2 separate regions of the Homo sapiens genome follow, and region 1 is linked to region 2. Evidence: fine-mapped expression QTL. A gene starts in region 2. The other region holds a variant in brackets. All regions are shown on one strand. Distances are from middle to middle. Region 1 overlaps EHF (ETS homologous factor). Region 2 holds the start of CD44-AS1 (CD44 antisense RNA 1).

Evidence for each region. PIP is the estimated chance that this variant, and not a neighbour inherited with it, causes the effect.
Region 1: its variant is fine-mapped to the expression of CD44-AS1 in monocytes after LPS (Quach 2016, PIP 0.95).

Annotation. Positions count from the first base shown.
Region 1 is chr11:34,650,315-34,653,235 of GRCh38, forward strand. It overlaps EHF (ETS homologous factor), which reads left to right. Exons shown (of 9, transcript NM_012153.6): 5 at 1,228-1,296; 6 at 1,423-1,491. Among named protein-coding and RNA genes, the nearest start is that of EHF, 31 kb to the left of the region's middle. RefSeq lists an enhancer at 330-579. The variant G/A (reference allele first, on the strand shown) is at 1,167.
Region 2 is chr11:35,213,675-35,216,595 of GRCh38, forward strand. CD44-AS1 (CD44 antisense RNA 1) reads right to left here and starts at 1,336. Exons shown (of 2, transcript NR_174965.1): 1 at 1,157-1,336. It overlaps CD44 (CD44 molecule (IN blood group)), which reads left to right. Exons shown (of 18, transcript NM_000610.4): 15 at 1,178-1,240. RefSeq lists an enhancer at 566-1,765.

The DNA.
Region 1 (2,921 bases), 560 kb before region 2:
AACACCCCCATACCTCTTTGGTTCAGTTTGTTTTCAGAGACAACAACAGGTGTACAAGGTGACCCAACAAGGAGAGAGGGTGTAACCCCAAGAGATTGGGCTTGGGGTGTCCAAACATGTAGCTATTAGCTAAAATACCGGCTAAATCCCTATGTCGTAAACACGAGGACTTAGCCAGTAAGTCAGGTTTTGTATCATTTGTGCTATAAAAACAAAATGAAACTCAGTCAGTGGCTTACACCCCGGCCCTAAAACTCAGAACCCAGCAAGGAGGGGAGCTGAGGGTAACCTAGGTCTGCGGTGAGGAGAAAGCAGGAAGTTTCTGGTGAGGACGAGGTGAGAGATCTTACAGCTTTTGGCTAGCCAAGAAACAAAATGCTTCTGTTGGAGACCAGCCCAGATCTGGGGGTTGCGTAGGAGTTGAGCTCCATTTGGGGTAGGTGGAGGGGAGTTCCCTTTGAATCTGAAATCTGAAGAGTCAGTCAAAGTGAGAGGTGTTTACCGCAGCACACAGAAGAAAGAGAAAGAGAGACAGAGTACAAGAGCACTTCTTTTCTGCGATGGGGCAGTGGGGCTTCACTCTTAAAAGGTGTTTGTTTGATTTAGTAACACAGTCCACCCCTTCTCCTTGGTTTTGTTTTGAGAATTTTATGTCATCCTTTAAGCTAATTGGAAAAATCCTAGAGGGAGGGGGCTGTCACCCAACTTGGATGACAAATCTCTGGATTTCAGCAAGGAAGAAACTGTGATAAGATTGACAAGACTCTTCCTGAAAGAAATATCATTAACCCCCCAAGGCCTCATTAATTATTTATTATACATTTAAATAAATTAATCCCTAACAAGGCCTTCCCCCCCACCACACTCTAGGGTAAAAATATTCTGGTGATTATGCAGTAGAATGCAGAACAAAGCCAAGCCAGGTTAGGAAAATTCCCAGGAACCACTTGGTCTAGGACAGGTTCCCATTCTTGCAACTTCTCTCACTTCCCTAAAAATGCAATAGGTACAGAACACATGGATGAGGCCATTTCCCCGAGGATGCTGAAAGGAAAATTAGACAACATTATTATAAAGTAACGCAGCTGAAGCAGAATCATATCCCTTGTCTCTGAGGACCACTCCTCACCCCCCATACTTTGTTGATGAACAATGAATTAGAAAAC[G/A]CAGCCTCTTCTCCCTGGGGAAAAGAGATCGCTGACTATTCTCCTTCTCTATTTTTTGTAGAGCCTTCCATCATGAACACCTGGAAAGACGAGAACTATTTATATGACACCAACTATGGTAGCACAGTAGGTAACTAACTCCCTGACACTTAAGGCCCTTTACATTCTTATTCAGTTTGTCTAAGAGCCACAGTGTTCTATTGTGAGGTGGGGGGAGGGGGTGCTCTAAATGTCCTTTATCTTTTCATGGCCACAGATTTGTTGGACAGCAAAACTTTCTGCCGGGCTCAGATCTCCATGACAACCACCAGTCACCTTCCTGTTGGTAAGCTGTCATCACATCTGAGGCTGGGTATGCCTAATGCTTAGGGAGAATCAGTGGGAATTACCAACACTCTACATTTCTGCCTTTCTGGAGTCTTTCTAATTAAAGGGCTAGGAAAGGGATGGGGTTACCATTAGACGAGGTTTGCTTTTGAGGCAATATTTGTACATCGAAGATGACCCGTAGGGATCCTCTAGGCAAAATGTTGGTCTCCTACGAAACTAGTCACTCTGTTGTGACAATAAAAGTTGTTTAGGCTTTTCTTTATTTTCAATGAAAACTTACTCTTGCAATATAGCTGCTAAAATTATTCATATTTGGGTATACTTATGGGAAATAAGGCTATATTTAATTTTCAACAAACTACATTTGGCTTTAGAGAAAGAATACCTCATAGTAAAATTCAAAGGTCCGTGAACCTGTAGTGATAGTTTCTGGGTGAAGGGGTAGCCATTGGAAACTTCCAGAATCCCCACAGTTACACTATTTTGTCAGTTTTTAAGTCTAATTCCGATGACTCATCAGTGCTCTCTAATCAGTCAGAGCACCTGCATTTTATGAGTTACGTTCACTTTAGCTGCATTTGGTTAAGCTTGGATGCAACTGGGGCTATCCATGCTCCTTAACCAAGGTTACACTGGGTGAGAAGTTTGGGATGTTGGGAGTCTGGGAGAGGGGATTTCAGATTACCACCCCCACCTACAAATAGGTGCATTGGCGTGTACAGTGTGGGAAATGGTTGAAAGAGGATCTTATGGTTTCCCGTGATCTGAGTATGAACTTGTGGATCTCTTTGGGTCTATGAAATGGCACTTAGACATCAGTCACAAGTGATAGTGCCTCTCTCCTGGAATTAAATTTGGAGCAACTTCAGAAATGGGATTTAATTGGGTCTTTGTGAAAGAAATTAGTCTGCAACCCTTCCTTCCTCTTTTTTTCTGTTTTTGTTTTTGCTTTTGAGAACTGAAATAATGAAAGGTTTTGGTTTGAGGTTTTGTTTGGGTCAAGCCCCTTAAATGAGATGGGGCTGGGAGCCAATGTAAATGCTTCTGGAATTGAGATTAAGAGCTGAGGCCAGCATAGCTCTCGACTTCTCCTTCCCCCAGTGGTCCTTAGCATTATGTGTCACTTGAGGTATTTGTTAAAATTAGGGAATAGATCAAACACTGGCAAGGCTTGGCTGTGTATTTGCTATTCTGGGGGAACTGAGCCAACCGGGGTAAAATTTCTGTGGCAATCATTGCCACTCAGTCAAGACCATGGGGTTCAGGGCTGAGGAAACCTCCCAAGTCACACTCTGAGTTCCTCTGCGACTTCCTACAGTGTCATCTCCCACATCCTTCCATCCTTCCATCCTTCCATCCTTCCATCCTTCCATCCTTCCATCCTTCCACTTGGGTCTTTGACTTACGGCAAAAAATTCCAACTAA
Region 2 (2,921 bases):
GAATCATAGTGGCAGTGGTGGTGGTGGTGATGGTGATGGTGATGGTGATAATGATGGTGATGGGATGGTGACGGTCATGGTGATTTTGGTAGTGGGAGTATTGGTGTGGCATTTCAGCAAATGTTGTTTTCATTTGTTTTAACCATCAGCCAAGGAACAAAGCAATCTGTCTCTTCAATATAGTTACACAGGTGACTAAGTGTCACCCGCTTCCACCTTCTCTAATCAAGGAAATGGTGACGATCAGGTTACTATAGATTCCTTATAAGGTGCCTTCATAATGGATAACTGTAGCCATTTTATGTAAGCATTGTCCTGTGATTAAAAAAAAAAAAAGATTCCAGTATGCTTTTGAAAAATGTGGGTGGGGGAGAGAGTTTTAATATGCTGCATTCAAGATTTGACCTATGGATTTAGATTCTAGCAATTCATGAGGTTGTCTTAATCTAAAGCTTTCTGGTGATAGATGTTTGAGAAGCTAGGATTATATTAACTAGTCATGTTGAAACTACAGATTTAACTTTAAAAAATTATTTTAAACTTACTATAATACCCATATTCCAATACACATTATTAATGTTAGCTATCATCTCACCATTTCCTTTTTTACTTATTTTCAATTTTTTTTGAAAATAAGTAGTTGACCTTTCTCTTTGAATCTTTACATCATTCAATCCCAAGATTCCTTATTGCATACTAATTTCCTGCCGCCAAGAAATCTCTGTTTCATGCCCTAAGCCAGAGTATGCCCATTTGCAGTGATTATGTTTCTCATAATCCAATTCATATTGTCCTTATTTAAAATGTACAATGTCTAGTCTCAACCTCATACCTGCAAAGATATCACAATATTTTTGTTAGCATGTTCCTTACCACAGTTCTTGGATTTCTACCAAAACAAAGTTTCTACAAAACTTCCTGTGGTCATCCTTCTTAGCCTTTGCTGCCCCAGTTTCCTTAATTCTTATTAAAGTTCTAGCTCATTTATCAGTGGATTAAGCAATGAACGGTAATTAACATTGTGGACCCATTCAAGGCTGTTTTGCCATCATTTTTTGGAATACCTTAAAAAGACTAAACTTTGTGATAGGCTGTATAAGAATGCAAAGGTAAAGAAATGCAGATGGGAGTGTAAGTGAAAACATGCAGTACTGACCTTCCTGATTGCTCATTACAGGAGACCAAGACACATTCCACCCCAGTGGGGGGTCCCATACCACTCATGGATCTGAATCAGATGGTGAGTTCAAAACTGCTTTAGTCATTTACTGTTATAATCATTGAGCCTAATGATGACTACCAACGAAGTATGAGTCAGTGTCTCCAGAGAAGTGGTTCTCAAACCTTCTTAGCATACATCACAATTGCAGGGAGGGCTTATTAAACCACAATGCTGGACCCCACCCTTAAGGTTCCTGATTCAGTAGGTCTGGGGTGGAGCCCAAGCATTTGCATTTCTAATCAGTTCCCTGGTAATACTGACACTGCTGGGACAGGGATTGCACTTTGAGAGCTACTGCTCTGGAGGAAAGCCTTGCATCTGAAAGCCTCAGGAAGAATTCAAGCAGTGTCCCAATTTAACCTTGCACTACACCAGAGTGATTAAGAGCTTGAGCTTTGTAGCAAAAATGGCCTGAGTTCGATTCCAGCCCTCCGCATATTAACTGAGCAAGATGCTTTAAAGGGTCTGAGACAACATTTCTCAACTAATAAACTTGGAATAATAACAATTGTCACAGGACATTGTTTCAAAGACTAAATGATAGAATACATGTAAAGCATTTAGCATAATCCTGGCACATGATATCATCACTGGTATTTGTTGGGAATTTACTGTGTGCCAGCAGCATCTTTCTAAACACTTTACATGTATTAGGTTGGGCCAAATGGAACTGCCATTATTGTAGGTCAAGAACAGGTCAATATCGGCCAGGCACGGTGGCTCACACCTGTAATCCCAGCACTTTAGGAGGCCGAGGCAGGTGGATCACGAGGTCAGGAGTTCGAGACCAGCCTGGCCAACCCTGTCTCTACTAAAAATACAAAAATTAGCCGGGCGTGGTCCTGCGCACCTGTAATCCCAGCTACTCAGGAGGCTGAGGCAGGAGAATTGCTCGGACCTGGCAGGCAGAGTTTGCAGTGAGCCAAGATTGCACCACTGCACTCCAGCCTGGGTGACAGAGCAAGACTCTGTCTCAAAAAAAACCAAAAAACAAAAAACAAAAAAACAGGTTAATATCAGCAAATTCATAGAGTTTATCTAGTATGAACTCATTCAGTCATCCTATAAACTCTGTGACATAGGTAAGTACTATTATTATCCCCATGTTACAGATGAGGAAACTAAGGCTCAGAGAAGGTAAGTAACTTGGCAGAGTTGACAGGACCAGAGAGTGATGGAGCCACCTTTCAAGCCTGGAGGGCCTTGTATTACTTCTCATAGCACAGTCTGGAGAAGGCATTCCATAATGACCATAATTACTCCCAGGCATGAATTCTTAAATAGACTCCTGTTTGTTGTGATTCAGATCACACCCCTACAAACCTTACCCCAGACTGCAAAAGTCTGACATGAGGTAGGTTTACTAATTACTTCTACTGCTGGGCTACTGGGAGGTTCTGCCAGTGCTGCCTTACTGTGGTCTCCCTGAACATCATAAATCCAGGTGACCCCATGTAAATGATTTAAGCCATATCAATTATTGTCTCCCCTTTTTATGCCCAAGTTTGAGTGAGGCTCACCATCAGATTTAAATGTTTACACATTGAAAACAAATATGAAGATGGATATTTACATGGTGGCTTCCACAATAACTCTCTATGGAGGAGCACTAGGAGGTAGGGATTCATTAGAAATGCTTCTGAAATAGAGACAGAAGTCACAGGTTCACTGGGGACTTTAGGCAGGGCACTTAACCTTT